Linked DNA regions of Homo sapiens: region 2 is linked to region 1. Evidence: fine-mapped expression QTL. Tissue or cell type: whole blood. Region 1 holds a variant in brackets; the other region holds the start of a gene. All regions are shown on one strand. Distances are between the middles of the regions.

Region 1 (8,099 bases):
TCTGGGCTCAGGGGGACAGTGAGTGGGGAAGTCCTCCTTTGGGTGAAGTCGGGGGCAGGATGGCCTCAGGCCCAGGCTCCTGTGACCCCTTGGCCCTGCTCTGGATTTGGGAGGAGGGGGGTCCCTTCCTTGAGGCATCTCCACCGGGCCCCCATGTGGATACAGGCCTGGGGCCCCTAGGCCCCCTCAGCACCTTCTGACCTAGCCCTGCCTCTCCTTCGCAGGAAGCTGTGCCAGCCACAGAGCACTGGCAGCCTCCTTGGAGACCCTGCTGCCTCCAGCCCCCCAGGCGAGCGTGGGCGCTCGGCCTCGCCCCCACAGGTAAGTGAGGCATGCCTGGGGTGACTGTCCCAAGCACCTGCAGGGCACTCTGTGCTGCATCAGTAACCCTTGTCACCTTCCTCACCAGCTCTTTGGAGCATGAGCTGCTCCAAGTTGAGCCGCCTCCCTCCGCCCAGGGACCAAGGGGGAAGCTGTCGGGTTGGGGTTGGGGGCAGATTCCTGCCAGTGTGGCCGCAGCACCCCAGTGTCACAGTGCGGAACCTGGGACGGGGGGCGGCTCCCTGATGTGGGCTCAACCCTGGGCTTCCTGCTCCTGTGTCACAGTTATCACTGGGGAAGCATGCTGAGCACAGCAGCGCTTTAGACCAGTCCCCAGGGGTGGCCCGCTCACACACTGGGCCCTGCCCTCCCCCTGCATCGATCCCAGCAGGCTGATGGGCCCCAGCTGAGGCCACCCTGAGCGGCACCTGGGACCTGACTTGGTGCTCGGGCGCCCCCATGTGGCCAGCGTGGGCCTTGCAGGCGGCGTTGGGTTTTCTAGCCAGGCCAGGGGATTGCCTGTTGCTGCTCAGCCACTCTGTGCTCCCCTCTAAAATGATCTCTGCTCCTCTCCAGAAGCGGCTGCAGCCTCCTGATTTCATCGACCCCCTAGCCAACAAGAAACCCCGGATATCGCACTTCACTCAGAGAGCTCAGCCTGCCGTCAACGGGAAGCTGGGCGTGCCCAATGGCCGTGAGGCCTTGCTGCCCACCCCGGGCCCACCAGCCAGCACGGACACCCTCAGCTCCAGCACTCACCTGCCCCCGCGGCTGGAGCCCCCGAGGGCCCACGACCCCCTGGCCGATGTCAGCAATGACCTGGGCCACAGCGGCCGAGACTGTGAGCACGGAGAGGCGGCTGCCCCAGCCCCCACTGTGCGCCTCGGCCTGCCCCTGCTGACGGACTGTGCCCAGCCCAGCAGGCCACACGGCAGCCCCTCGCGCAGCAAGCCCAAGAAGAAGTCCAAGAAGCACAAAGACAAGGAGAGGGCGGCTGAGGACAAGCCCCGGGCCCAGCTTCCAGACTGTGCACCTGCCACCCATGCCACCCCCGGAGCCCCAGCAGACACCCCAGGTAGGTGCCCAGGCAGGAGGGCGTTGCCGGGGCTCTAAGTACTGGCCCCACACCCGCCTCACCCTCATGGGGTGTCGAGGGGGCTCAAGCTGTAGAAGCCAGGGGAGGGGACCCTGTTGCCCCAGGCCCCATCAGATTTGCCCTGTGTGCCTGGCACCTGGCACCCTATGTTCCTGCACCTGGTCCTCTCCCTGCCTGTCTGGAGTGCCCGGTGCCACTTGCAGTCAATGTGCCAGGCCAGCACTGGGGGCCGGAGGCCCAGAGCCTTGTGGGGAACTGAGGCCGCAGAAGGGGCTAACATGCAGAGAGGAATGGGGCCCAGGCCCCAGCTCTGACTGCAGGGAAGCCCCAGGAGCCAGGGCCATGCTGAGGTCTGCTGGGGTTCAGGGAAGACAGTGGGGGCCCAGGCAAGCCAGCCCTATTCAGGGAGAGGCAGCACAGGTGCAGATGGGCAGATCCTGGTGGGAGAGGGATAGCACCTGGACCTCTGTAGGCACCGTGCGACTGTTGTGGACTGTAGGTTTCTGCTGTGGGGACAGGGCCTGGCAGGCTGGGATTGGGGAGCCAGGAGACCTGGGCGGCTCCGAGACCACAGCCCAGGCACCTAAACTGAGCAGCAGTAGCACCCGCCTAGCACCGTGGCCATGAGCCTGCGCAGCTGTTCATTTATAGGAACCAGCAGAAGCAGTGGCCAGCGTGCAGCGGCTGTTCCACCACCATGTGCGACAGGGGCTGCAGTGGTCCCATGTGGCGATGGCGGCCAGTTGCAGATGGCCACTTCGCTCTCGGCGCCAGCTGGCCCAGGGCAGCCCAGGTGGTGTCACCTGCTGTGCTTTTGGGTTGTGTCTCTGGGGAGGAGGCTGAGTCAGGGGATTCCTGGGATGAGGGTGGGAGCCCTTCTTTCATTATAGCTTTGCGTTGCTCAGAGGGCCATGCCCCGTCCCCTGCTGTGGCTGGAGAGCAGGTCCTCACAACTGTGGCTGGGTCTTACTGGATAGGAAGGAAGACTTTCGGGGTTGGGTCAGCCCTGCCTCGTGCTGGGCTTCCCACCTCCCGTGGGACTGCATGTGGGGGCCGACGGGGAGAAGGTGGCCTTACTCCCTGGGCAGCCTCTCTGACCAGGGCCATGCTCAGGGCAGGACTCCTGATTCCCAGGACACACCCACACCCCACAGCCAGACCTGGGCCACGATCAAATGGCAGGATCTGCCATTTGAGACCCTTGGCCCGGCTCCAGGGTCCACAGACCACTCTGGGCTGTGTCCCTTCCTTGGATGCCCAGTGCCTAGGTGCCAAGACAGGCCTGGGGACTCAAGGTGGTTTCCTGTCTGGCCTGGTGCGTGTTGGCCCCTAGGCAGTTCATCCCCGGCCCAGGGGCTGTCATCTCTACCACAGGTGAGAAAATGCAAAGCAGGGGTAGATGTCCCAAGCACCAAGAAAAGGACAGTGGAGGCACCAGAAGCTGAGCCTGGTGCTGGTGGTCCATGTTACCAGAGTCCTGAAGGTGGTACTTGTGCAGGGCATGTCTTAGCTGTCCTGTGCCCGTGCCCAGGACAAGCAAGTAGAGAGACGTGGGCTGTGAAGGGGAGAGATGGGGAGAGGAGCTGCTGTGGGGGTGTTCTCCGGGGCCCCGAAGCAGGGACCAGCTTGGCCGGCCCCACACAGCCAGAGCTTGAGTAGGAGTCGGGGGCCGCTGAGGTTTGCCAAGGGCTGGACTTTGAAGGTCCCACTGGTACCAGGTTGAGCTGACCCTGAGCCTTGATTTCCCCGTTTGTCATCCTAGCTGGTGAAGATCTTGGGGCATGTCAAATGAGGTAATGTTGACCAGCCTGACACATGGCAGTTATCTGTTGTAGAATACCCACGGAGTCCACTGCGTGGCGGGAGCATGGGCTTGGCCTTCGCAGCTGCGCCTTGCCTCTCACTTCCTTCTGGCCCGGACCAGGGTCAGACCCATTCAATACATGCCCATTGAGTTGCGTCCCTGGGAAGGCCACAGCCTCTTAAAGACAACCCAGGTGGGGGTGGTGGTGATATGGAAGACAGTGTCTGGCCCAAAGTGGGGAGTGTTAGAAACTTTGTGGGGAGTGAGCTTCGTCCACTTTTGGGAATTTGGCAGCAGAGAAGCTGCTGTGGTCAGCCCAGGTGTGTTACACTGAGAGAGAGGGCTCAGCAAACTGGAGATCGCAGACTC[CT/T]GCTCTCTCAGGGGATAGTGCAGAGGGCCCCTGAAAATGTGCACTAGGGCCAGGCACAGTGGTTCCGCCTATAATCCCAGCATGTTGAGAGGCCAAGTCAAGAGGATCACTTAAGTCCAGGAGTTCAAGACCAGCCTAGGCGATATAGGCAAGCCTCCTCATCTCTACTAAAAAGTAAAAAAAAAAAAAAAAAATTCGCCAGGTGTGGTGGTTCATGCCTTTAATCCCAACGCTTTGAAAGGCCAGTTCAGGAGGATTGCTTGAGGTCAGGAGTTTCAGACCAGCCTGGGCAACACAGTGAGACCCCATCTCTACAAAAAAATTTTGTAATTAGCTGGGCATGGTGGCATATGCCTGTAGTCTCACCTACTTGGGAGGCTGAGGCAAGAGGATCACTTGAGCCCAGGAGTTCAAGGTTGTAGTGAGCCATGATCGCACCATTGCAACTCCAGCCTGGGTGGCAGAGCAAGACCCTGTCTCTAAAAAAAAAAAAAAAGTGTATTGAGGATACATCTGAAATTGATAAAATCATTTCTGTATCGGAAAGAAAGCCACTGCAAGAAGGTCTAGAAAACGCACTAAATTGTAGTTGTGGTCTTAGGCGACGCGCACTTCAGTCTTCCTGCCCCTCCCCTCCCTGATTTCCAGACCCTCAGGGGTGTTGTCTTATGTGGCCGGGGCACCCCACCACATGGCTCAGGAGCAGGACAGCTGCCTGGGGTGCCATCTAGCCATCAGCTGTGCTGCTTTGGGCAGGCCCCTGAAGGGGCGAAGGGCTGAGCGTCATCATGGACACTTTGCTCATGGATGGCCGATTGGGGTGGCCCATGGGCTCCTCTGGCTGGCCCTGTCCTGGAGCTGCCTTGTGGAGCGTGCAATTCAGTGTCTAGTGGAAAGGACGGGATGATCTGGGTGGGGCACAGACCAAGGGCGTGGAACTTTGTCAGCAGCAAGAGATGCAGGCCCTGCTGGCCATCTTGTCTTTGTCCTGTCTGGCCAGAGACTGGGATGCCCCAGAGACTCAGGTCAAGCCAGGGGTCATTTGTTTTCAGCTTAGTGACCTTTGACATGCAGTCAGTGGAGGCAGCAAGGGCCTGGCCTGGGGGAAGCTCTGACCGGTTGTGCAGGCTTTGGCCCTGCAGTTCCCTGACCTGTCCGCTGTTTGCCAAGAATGTGACTGTGGTGATGCCTGGGTGCTCTGTGTCCTGCAGGGCTTTGCCCTGGACACGCAGGTGCACGCTGAGCTCTGCTCACCACCTGGAGGGCACGCCCAGGTCCAGCAGCCCACAGTTGCCAGGTGCGAGGGGCTCAGCCCTTGCACCTGCCACACAGTCATCCCCTCTGCTATCCCTCTATGTCCCTCCAGCAGCAAAGTGTACAGTTTTCATGCATGTCCCCATCCTGGCGTGCTTCCTGCCGACCGGTGCCATGGGCGCAGACTCAGGAGGTATGTGTTTGCTCTCGTAGGTTTAAACGGAACCTGCAGCGTTTCCAGTGTTCCCACGTCCACGTCGGAGACGCCTGACTACTTGCTGTGAGTGTTTGTCTGGGCCCTGCAGGCCAGGCCTCCCTTTTCTGGGTTCAGACCCCCTCCCCCAGCACTGCAGGTTATCAGAGGTAGAAGCCACTGCAAGTCTGAGTATGTGAATTCCAAACATAGCAGCCTCTTCTGGGCCAGGCCCCCTCATAATCCAGGGAATCACCCGAGAGGCCAGGCCGCCGGTGGAGCCAGGATGGCCACTTCCTGGGTGGGGCTGGGTCCTTCCAGCCTCCACTCAGTGGCCCCTCTCTCCTGTTTCAGGAAGTACGCAGCCATCTCCTCTTCGGAGCAGCGCCAGAGCTACAAGAACGACTTCAATGCCGAGTACAGCGAGTACCGCGACCTGCACGCCCGCATTGAGCGCATCACGCGGCGGTTCACCCAGCTCGACGCCCAGCTCCGGCAGCTCTCCCAGGGCTCCGAGGAGTATGAGGTAGAGCCCCCCCGCTGCCTACTGTGCCCTGGCTCTGGCGGGAGCCAGGGCCCACTTGGGCGCGCACCATCGCCACCACGAGCTTGGTGGCCCCAGAGTCTGGCCCTTCCCCAGGCAGCGCTTCTCCCCCTGGTGCACTCCATGCAGCAACCCCATGGTTCTGGCCCGGCCCTGGGGTCCTGTTGTGGGAGTCCTTGAAGGCAGCCCAGCTTGTCAGCCTCCTTTGCAGTGGGGACAGCTGTGACCCACCTCCTTGGATGGGGGCGAGCCGGGGTACATGGATCCCCACATGTTTGAGCGCCTGGGGTCCTCTCACAGCCTAGGACACAGGGCTCTTGGTACCTGTGCCAAACCCTCAGGAGACTCCGCAGCTGAGCTCTGTCCAGCACCCTGGGGCCCATCCATGCTGCCACAACTATAGCAGGGGGAGGTGACAGGTCCCTGTGGTCCTGGGAATCAGGACTCCTGTGGTCCCCTGGCTTGAGCTCACAGCTCATTCAGCTGCCCTGTGTATACAGAGAGTCTCCACCCTTAGCCTAGCCTTGGACGTAGCCGCCCCACCTGCCACCTTTCGGAACTGGTGACCTGACTACAGGGCTGGGCCCTGATTAATCAGATGCCGGGGTCTCTCCTGGCCAAGGCCCCTTTGCCTTCCAAAGACGACGACTCATGATGGGGTTCTAGGGGCTGCGAGCCACGGGTTCTTGGGGCATCTCTCCTTCCCCTTCCCTCCCTCTTTGCTGCACCCCCCCACCCCCTCCCCACCCCCCCACGACATGGATACTTCCTTGTCCTGCCACGCCCCCACAACAGCAGTGCCCCACCTGCTATTGCCTCCAGGGGACCCGGCAGCCTTTCCCTCATGCCCCACCCACTCCGGAGCTACAGCCGCTGTGGGCCCCTGGGGTGTTACTTGGCCTTGTCCTTGAGGCTGCCCCACCCTCCCATGCCCCCTTCTCAGAGCACCTGGGACCACTCAATTTGGGTTTCCTGTAGGCGGGGACACATTCTGTTTTCTCAAAATTTTGTTTTTCTTCTAGACTACTCGAGGGCAGATTTTGCAGGAATATCGAAAAATCAAAAAGGTGAGTGTCTCTTGTGTTGGGGTGGGCTCCAAGTGAGCCATGGGAGCTGGAGGGAGGAGGGTGGGCCCGGGGCAGCCTCCCTGCCCGCTACTTCCAAGGTGTGGGGGAAGAGCCTTTGAGTCTGAGGCCAAAGTTGCCCCACCACCCCCAGCTAAGTCTTCAGCTGTGGCATCCTGGCCCAGCCACACAAGCTGTGGAGGTGCGGGGGACCAACTCCCACTCTGCCCTTGGACCACAACCCTCCTTGCTGGGCACCAAGCCCAGGTTTTTGGTTTGGGGGGGACACTGGCCTGCTTACAGCGGGGAGCAGCACCCAGGGCGGCTCTGTCCTGAGCATGACTGTGCTGTCCCACAGACCAACACCAACTACAGCCAGGAGAAGCACCGCTGCGAGTACCTGCACAGCAAGCTGGCCCACATCAAGAGGCTCATCGCCGAGTACGACCAGCGGCAGCTGCAGGCTTGGCCCTAGCCGCCCTCCCCGATGGCGGGGATCTGGGAGGGTCGGGGGAGCAAAAGGCGGTGAGAGAGGATTTATTTAAAAAAATAAACCCGAGGAAGATGCTCATCTGAGCCAGCACCGCCGGCTTTCAGGGCAGCCCCTGCAGACGTCTGGCCCTGGCGGGTGGCTGCAAGCCCACCTCGGCCCTCCCTGCGCTTCCTGAGCAGTCCCTGCTTATGATGGGCTCCCCAGGAAGCCCACTGCCTCCTCCCTGGCTGCAGCCTCCGGGGTTCAGCCTCCTGTCTCGCCAGAAGACTCCTAGGCCCTTGGGGTGGCGCGCCTGCCTTTTCTAGTTTTATACAAAGACAGCCACTTTTAGCTACTGCTAATGAGACTTGAGTCTATTTTTGTACAAAAGAGAAGCAAAATCTTTTTTCTAAACCTGTGCCTCCCTCTCCTCGGACACCCAGGGTCTAGCCGCTGCCCTGGGTCCTGCCTGCAGTATTACAGAGGTCGTCGAAAGGTGCAGCTGCGTTCTGAGGGCGTGGGGAATGGGCAGGTGGCCTCTGCTGGTCTCTGGCTCTACGTTTAGGCACCCCTTTCCCCAGCCTCTCCTCCTTGGGCAGGGTCTCTGCTCCAGCAAGCAAACAGGGTGGCCCAGGTGGCTATTTTGAGAACTCCAGCTGGTGCCCCCAGACAGCTGCTCAGAGCCAAGGGGGCAGAGGGCTTTCAGCGCCCCCAGGCCTGCCCTGCTATTTCAGGCCCTCAGCTGTCGGGGGCCACTGTGTTTCTGTGCTCCAAGTTGAGACTCGGCCGCAGCGGCGTCAGACTTTTCTTTGCGATGTCCTCGGTTTCCCATTTGTTGCTGCTGCTGCTCATTCCACACTGTTGAGACCTTGTGGTCTCGATGCTGCTGGCCTCCCTCCGTCCCTCTGTCCACTTGTGGGTCCTGGGGTCGTCTTAGCAGAGCCACCGCCAAGGTTTGCACTCAGGGAGGGGCTGATGGAG
Region 2 (8,099 bases), 75 kb before region 1:
GAATGGCCAGACTAGGAGTGTGAAATTGAATGTGGTTATTCACTCGGCCACTTCATCCTCAAAGGTCTGAGCTGGTTGTGGGTGGTGAGCTGGAGCATCCAGCACGTGTGACGCTGCAGTTGTGTTGAAGGCATGGGATGCCTTTAATGGGTGGTGAAGGGTATCCCTTGTGGATGGCATAGCTGTGCAAGGTATGCCAGCTGGACCATGTGTGGTACCTTTGGAGAACGACGGGGATGGCTTTGTCTTTCATACCAAAGCATTTACTAACACCTCCCATATACCTGGCCTTGAGCAGTGACTCAGGAGGGCCTTACCCGACTTGCCATGGGCTGTGAATTGGAAGTGAGCACTGCGGAAGGAATTTTGTATGTGTACGCGAGCTCACAATTCTGGAACACTTGAACAGGGCGAGCTACACATGTCCTTGTCTCATGTCATTGTCACAGAAGAATCAGGTAGATGCTGTTACACTCCCTGTTTTCTGGATGAGCAAACTGAGGAACAGAGATGGCAAGATGTGTCCAAGACCACACACGGGGTAAGGGGCAGGGTGGGGTCACTGCTTCCATCAGAGAGCTCACCAGGTGGACTATGTGTCCGGGGGGCACCCCAGGGTGATCAACTCACTTGCAATATTGTGGGTGACCTAGTTCCTTTTTTTTTTTTTTTGAGATGGAGTCTCGCTGTGTCACCCAGGCTGGAGTGCAGTGGCGCGATCTCGGCTCACTGCAAACTCCGCCTCCCAGGTTCACGCCATTCTCCTGCCTCAGCCTCCGGAGTAGCTGGGCCTACAGGCGCCTGCCACAATGCCTGGCTAATTTTTTTGTATTTTTAGTAGAGACGGGGTTTCACTGTGTTAGCCAGGATGGTTTCGATCTCCTGACCTCAAGTGATCCACCCGCCTCGGCCTCCCAAAGTGCTGAGATTACAGGCGTGAGCCACCATGCCTGGCCATGGGTAACCTAGTTCTTAAAAATTTCTGCAGACAAAGCCGGACACGGTGGCTCACGCCTGTAATCCCACCACTTTGGGAGGCCGAGGCGGGTGGATCACTTGAGGTCAGGAGTTCGAGACCTACATGGTGAAATCCCGTCTCTACTAAAAATACAAAATTAGCTGGGTGTGGTGGCGTGTGCCTGTAATCCCAGCTACTCAGGAGGCTGAGGCAGGAGAATCACTTGAACCAGGAGGCAGAGGTTGCAGTGAGCCGAGATCGTGCCACTGCACTCCAGCCTGGGCAACAAGAGCAAAACTCCGTCTCAAAACAAAGAAACAAAAATGTCTGCAGACGGCCAGGTGCAGTGGCTTATGGCCTATAATCCTAGCACTTCCTAGCACTTTGGGAGGCTAGGCGACAGGATCTTTTGAACCCAGGAGTTAGAGACCAGCCTGGGCAACATGGAAAAATCTCATCTCTTCAAAAAATACAAAAGATTGGCCCAGTATGGTGGAGCATGCCTGTAATTTCAGCTACTTGGGAGGCTGAGGTGGGAGGATGGGTTGAGCCCAGGAGTTGGAGGCTGCAGTGAGCCGAGATCATGCCACTGCACTCCAGCCTGGGTGACAGAGTGAGAACTTGTCTCCAAAAAAAAAAAAAAAAAAAAAGGCCAGGCATGGTGGCTCACGCCTGTAATCCCAGCACTTTGGGAGGCTGAGGCAGGCGGATCATCGGATCATGAGGTCAGGAGATCGAGACCATCCTGGCTAACACGGTGAAACCCCGTCTACTAAATATACAAAAAATTAGCCAGGCGTGGTGGCACGTGCCTGTAACCCGAGCTACTCGGGCGGCTGAGGCAGGAGAATCGCTTGGACCCAGGAGGCGGAGGCTGCAGTGAACCCGAGATTGTGCCACTGCACTCCAGCCTGGGCGACAGAGTGAGACTCCGTCTCAAAAAAAAAAAAAAAAAAGAAACTTCTGCAGAGCATGCCAACGTCTGATAAGTTCTGCCTTATTTTTCCTGGGGTCTCATTGAGATCCACTGGGGAATCAAATGTAAAGTAGACGTGGAGAAATACTTTTTTTTTTTGGGACCGAGTCTTGCTCTGTCACCCAGGCTGGAGTGCAGTGGCACGATCTCGGCTCACTGCAAGCTCTGCTTCCTGGGTCCAAGCTATTCTCCTGCCTCAGCCTTCTGAGTAGCTGGGATTACAGGCGTGTGCCACCATGCCTGGCTAATTTTAGTGTTTTTAGCAGAGACGGGGTTTCACCATGTTGGTCGTGGTGGTCTCGAACTCCTGACCTCATGATCCAGCCCCCTCGGCCTTCAAAAGTGCTGGGATTACAGGCGTGAGCCACTGGGGGCCTGGCTTTTTTTTTTTTTTTTTTTTTTTTTTTTTGGAGACAGGGTCTTACTCTGTCACTCAGGCTGGAGTGCTGGAATATAGTGGTGCGAACATAGTTCACTACAGCCTCAACCTCCCATGGGCTTGAGAGAGCCTCCCATGTCAGCCTCCGGAGTAGCTGGGACCACAGGGGTGCTCCACCATGCCCGGCTAATTTTTTTAATTTTTTAAATTTTTTTGTAGAGAGGGGGCTTAGCCCTGTTACCCAGGCTGGTCTCAAGCCCTTGGGTGCAAGCGATCCTCCCGTCATGGCATCCCAAAATGCTGGGATTTCAGGTGTGAGACACCTTGCTAGGTCCTGAGTACTGCTCTTATTGCTGTTTCCTGTTTCCGAAGTGAATCCACAGAGGCTCAGAAGCAGGAGGTGCCTTTCACAAGATCACAGAGCGAGCTGGTTGGCCCTCCAAGCCAGCTCCTCCCTTGGCCAGGCGCAGTGGCTCACGCCTGTAGTCCCAGCACTTTGGTAGCCCTAGGCAGGCGGATCACCTGAGGTTGGGAGTTAGAGACCTGATCAATATGGTGAAACCCCGTCTCTACTGAAAATACAAAAATTAGCTGGGCGTGGTGGTGGGCATCTGTAATCCCAGCTACTCGGGAGGCTGAGGCAGGAGAATCGCTTGAACCTGGGAGGCGGAGGTTGCAACGAGCTGAGATGGCACCGTTGCACTCCAGGTTGGGCAACAAGAGTGAAACTCTGTCTCAAAGAAAAAGAAAAAAAAATCTCGGAAATTAGATAGTGGTGACAGCTACACAGCATTGGGAATATATTTTATATGTAAAATGTGACTCAATGAAGTTGCTTTTTAGAAAATGGAAGGCTGGCCGGGCACAGTGGCTCATGCTTGTAATCCCAGCACTTTGGGAGGCCGAGGTGGGTGCATCACTTGAGGTCAGGAGTTCCAGACCAGCCTGACTAACATGGTGAAATCCCGTCTCTACTAAAAATACAAAAAATTAGCTGGGCGTTGTGATGGGCGCCTGCAGTCCCAGCTACTACTCGGGAGGCTGAGGCAGGAGAATTGCTTGAATCCAGGAGGCGGTGGTTGCAGTGAGCCGAGATCACACCACTGCACTCCAGCCTGGGCAAGGAAATCGAAACTCTGTCTAAAAACAAACAAACAAACAAAAACTGGGGGAGGTGGCTCACGCCTGTAATCCTAGCACTTTGGGAGGGCGAGGCGCGCGGATCACCTGAGGTCAGGAGTTCAAGACCAGCCTGGTCAACATGGTGAAACCCCATCTCTACTAAAATACAAAAATTAGCTGGGCATGATGGCGGGCGCCTGTAATCCCAGCTACTCGAGAGGCTGAGACAGGAGAATCGCTTGAATTCAGGAGACGATGGTTGCATTGAGCCGAGATAGCGCCACTGTTCTCCAGTCTGGGCTGATGAGCAAGACTCCGTCTCAAAAAAAAAAAAAAAGAAAAGAAAAGAAAATGGAAGTCTGGGCTTGGTGGCTCACTCCTGTAATCCTAGCATTTCAGCAGACCCAGACAAGGAGGATCAGTTTGAGTTCAGGAGGTCGAGGGTGCAGTGAGCCATGATGGCGCCATTGCACTCCAGCCTGGGCAACACAGCAAGACCCCTCAAAAAAAAATTAAAATAGGAAAATGAAGCTGGACTGCACCATCGCTCAGGGACTGTGGGGATGTAGGATTTTATCCTATTAAAAGTACTCATCTCATAAGAAAAAGTTTACCAGCTCCTCTTCCACCTACCGGTCCAGCACCTTCCCTGGGTGGAAGTCCCATCCACCCCGCCTAAGGGATGCCTTATGTGTCCAACCCAGCGTCCAACGCGCGCGCTCCGTTTACATAGCCACGCCCACCCTCCCGGCCCGCGGCGGGGCCTACCCACCCACGTGTTTCGAGCCGGCTCCGCCCCTCCACGCCCTCTCTGCGGCTTTCCACAGAAGCCAAAGACGGAAGACTGTAGAGATCTCATAAATAATGCATCACGTCAGCGGCTGTAGGGGCGGGGCTTTGACGCGCCTGGCTGGCTGAGTCAGGGTTATGTATAATACTATGGAGGCGGGGCCTGGAGGGGTGCGCGTGTTGAGGCGGAGTTCGTTCACGGAAGTGGCCACCCCTAGGGCCTGAAGAGGCGGGGCCATAAGTGCCTTATGAATATGCAACAACTTGGGGCGTTGACTGTGGGCCTTGTGGGGCCCTCATGGGGCGTGGCCAGGCGCGTCTCCTGAATAATGTAGTGCGCTGCCTGCCGGTGTGGCGGCGACTGTTGGTTTGGTCGGACTCGGGGGGCGTGGCCAGCCGCGTCTCATGAATAATGCAGCGCGTCAGCGGGCGGCGGGGCGGGGCGTGGCCGGCGTGGCGGCGCTGGAGCCGGGAAGGGGGCGCGGGGGAGAGATGGTCGCAAGATGGCGGCGCTGAAGGAGGATAGGAGCTACGGGCTGTCGTGCGGGCGGGTTAGCGACGGCAGCAAGGTGTCGGTGTTCCACGTGAAGCTCACCGACAGTGCCCTGAGGGCCTTCGAGAGCTACCGCGCCAGACAGGTGAGTGGCATGGCGCCCGGCGCGCCAGTGGGGAACGTCCGGACGCGGGCCGGCCTCGCGCTCCCCTCACTGAGGCGTCCGGGCTCGGAGACGCTAGGTCTGTGGTGCTGCTCGCGGGTCCCTGGGCCGGCGGGGCGCGGAGTGGGCGCCAGTCCGGCCTGGAGCGCTGAGAACCGCGTTCCTTCTCAGCACTAGGAGGCAATACAGGCGGGTGGCCCGGGGCTGCTGAGGGGCCCAGACTCGCGCGCCGGGCCCGGGGGGCGTCGGTGTCGGCACCTGGCGGCGTCCGGGGCCTTTCTGGCCTGCTGGGCACCTGGGCAGGGTCCAGTTTGCGCACCTGGCGGCGGGGCGAGGAGGCGGTGGGCCGCACGGTCCCGGCACCGTGATAGGGGGAAGCTGGGGGCTTTTCCATCTGGGGCCGGGGCAGCGCCGTTGGTGGGGGTGACTGTGTCTGTCCTCCTGGGAAGCAGCGATCGTCTGGGTGCCCGGCAGGGGGTGGTCAGCGAGGCACTTGTGGGGGTCTGTTCTGTCTGGGTGGAAGGCTTTGCAGCTGGGGGCTGGCTTTGACGCGTTCCGATGAAGCCACTCAGGTTGGGCCACTTTGGTTCTTGGGACGGGGAGTTTGGGCAGAAACTGACAGCTTGTCCCAGCTTTCTGCTCCCCTTACCCCCAGGTGACCCTCTCTCTCCGGAGAGAGGTTCCTTGGAGAGTGGAAGTGTTGGGGGCGGCTGTGATGTTATCCTCAGGGCACATGTAGGGGATCCCTGCCACCCAGGAGGAAGCTCTGGCTACCACATCTGGCCGCTGACTCTGGAACTTCTCAGAGGCCGATTTGGGCCCATCTGGGGGAAGTTTGAGGCGTTTCGGTTCTGCCACCTGGCTGGTGGTGGGGAGGGGAGGCTGCTGTGTATGTTCTCTTGGGCCTGACTTTGGGGCGCATCTGGGGCCGTGGTCAGAAACCTGCCTTTTTCATTTCTGTTTGTGTCATGGCCCCCCCTCCCCCCGTCTGTGCTGGGTCAGAAGTTGCAGATGACCAGTGGTCAGGTCCCGAGGGGAAGTGGTTTAGGAACCTTGTAACTCCTTTTCTGGAAATTGGGGGCTTCATTGCCCTAAAGGGAGTGGGGGTGGGTCTAGTCTCGGGCTCAGAGAGCCCTGCTCCCTGCGTGTGTGTGTGTTTGTGTATACTGTTGATGGTGGGGGTGGGGGGGTGCCGCGGGCGGGGGAGGAGGGAGACTAACTAGGAAGGAATGTGGCTTTCTTCCTGCCCCGAACTTGTTCAGCTCCATTAGCTAAGCCGAGAATTTCTTCCCCCTGTTTCGTTTCCACCACTCTCCCGGTGCCCACCCCTTCCGTGCTTCTTCCCATGTCTTTGGGCAATTTCCTCCCTGTCCCGGTGTCGCAGTTTTCCCCTTCATGGAATGAGGATTTCATTTTTTTTTGAAAGAGCAAGTTCGCACCTTGTCAAAAAGACTCCCCAAGATGAGGCTAAGGCGCCCCTGCAGGTGAGGAGGAGACAGTGGCAGCGACAGCAGCTGCTGGCCCATGACCAGCCAGAGCCTCTCTTCCTGGTAGAATTCTGGCCCTGGGTCTTTTTCCCTGAGCGATTCTGACTTGTCCTGCAGGAAGGCAGGCTTTCCTAGAAACAGCTGGGGGAGAGCTCGTGAGTCATATAACTACGATGGACTTGGTACCTGGTCACCACTGTCTTCTGTGCTTTAGGAACCAGGAGCTCCGCCTTCTCTCTGATGCTGCCCTCGCTTGCTTTTCAGTCCAGAAGGTCCGCCTGTGTGTCCACCTCATGCTGTCACACTGCTATTTTTACTTTAGGGTATTGGTTACATCCCCTCTCTAAGCTGGATCTTCCTCATGTTAGGGTGAAGGTAACTGTGGACTGTTAAACTCCTCTGGCTCGGAGCCCAGCTGTGTAGGGCAGTGTGTTGACCAGCCAGGAGGGGCTTCCTAGAAGAACTTTTCCAAGCCATCCAGAGCAACTTGGCTGGCTGGATTATATTTTGGGGTGATTCAAACTTGGATTTTTCTCAAAAAGCTGTCTGGTAATTTAAGTGGCTTGGCCACTTTCTTTCTTTCTTTCTTTCTTTTTTTTTTTTTTTTTTGAGATGGAGTTTCACTCTGCTGCCCAGGCTTCATTGAGGTGGCGCGATCCCGGCTCACTGCAGCTTCTGCCTCCCGGGTTCAAGCGATTCTCCTGCCTCAGCCTCCCGAGTAGCTGGGACTACAGGCACGTGCCACCACACCCGGCTAATTTTTGTATTTTTAGTAGAGACAGGGTTTTGCCATGTTGGCCAGGCTGGTCTTGAACTCCTGACCTCCAGTGATCCGTCCTTCTCAGCCTCTAAAAGTGCTGGGACTACAGGCATGAGCCACTGCTCCCAGCCAGCTTGGCTACTTTCGAATTTAATCTTGCCCATGGGGCAGTATAGTGGATGGACTTTTCTAAGGCACGGCAGCTCCGTGCTCTCTGTGGTTTTGGGTAGTGAGCTTGAGGAAGGTGGCTTGAAGAACTTGATTGTGTAACCAGAGAAATATACTGGTTATGGACAAACTCTCATGTGGACAACTCTATCACCCAGAAGCCAGAGTTTTGTATTCCTCGATGCTGTGGTTATATAGTTTGCCAATTGCAACTTGTGGAGAGGGCTTTTATTTTTAATTTCTTTTTTTTTTTTTTGAGACGGAGTCTTGCTCTGTTGTCCAGGCTGGAGTGCAGTGGTGCGATTTTTCGTGTTAGCCAGGATGGTTTCGATCTCCTGACTTTGTGATCTGCCCACCTCGGCCTCCCAAAGTGCTGGGATTACAGGCGTGACCAACCGTGCCCGGCCTATTTTTAGTTTTTAATTGTGAAGAGGCTTTTACAAATTCAGGTGTGGCAGGGGCTAGAAAGGAACTTGCTGTGGAACTTTCTCTGTGGCTCCCAGGAGCAGGTAATCCTAGCTCTGGGAACAGCCCAGGTAGAAGCCCTCCTGTTTTCTCTCCCCAGAGGGCTCTGGTGTTGACCTGGTAGCCAGCTGGAGCAGCGTGGTGGAAGGTAAAGGCGCAGCAGTACACATAGCTGCTGGCCTTCTCACTCTACCTTGGACTTTGTGCAGTTTTTCTTTCCTTTTTTTTTTTTGAGACAGGGTCTTGCCCTGTCGCCCAAGCTGGATTGCGCTGGCGTGATCTCAGCTCACTGCAACCTCCGCCTCCCGGGTTCAAGTGATTCTCCTGCCTCAGCCTACC

The links. PIP is the estimated chance that this variant, and not a neighbour inherited with it, causes the effect.
Region 2: ELL starts here. The variant in region 1 is fine-mapped to the expression of ELL in whole blood (TOPMed, PIP above 0.99).

The regions. Positions count from the first base shown.
Region 1 is chr19:18,443,774-18,451,872 of GRCh38, reverse strand. It overlaps ELL (elongation factor for RNA polymerase II), which reads left to right. Exons shown (of 12, transcript NM_006532.4): 7 at 225-321; 8 at 898-1,396; 9 at 5,059-5,125; 10 at 5,393-5,564; 11 at 6,605-6,649; 12 at 7,005-8,099. The coding sequence ends at 7,121. Among named protein-coding and RNA genes, the nearest start is that of ISYNA1, 9.7 kb to the right of the region's middle. RefSeq lists enhancers at 64-870, 871-1,677, 5,024-5,552. The variant CT/T (reference allele first, on the strand shown) is at 3,591.
Region 2 is chr19:18,518,684-18,526,782 of GRCh38, reverse strand. It overlaps ELL (elongation factor for RNA polymerase II), which reads left to right and starts at 4,713. Exons shown (of 12, transcript NM_006532.4): 1 at 4,713-4,862. The coding sequence starts at 4,728. RefSeq lists enhancers at 4,220-4,549, 4,693-5,208, 5,209-5,724 and silencers at 4,940-5,249, 5,980-6,029.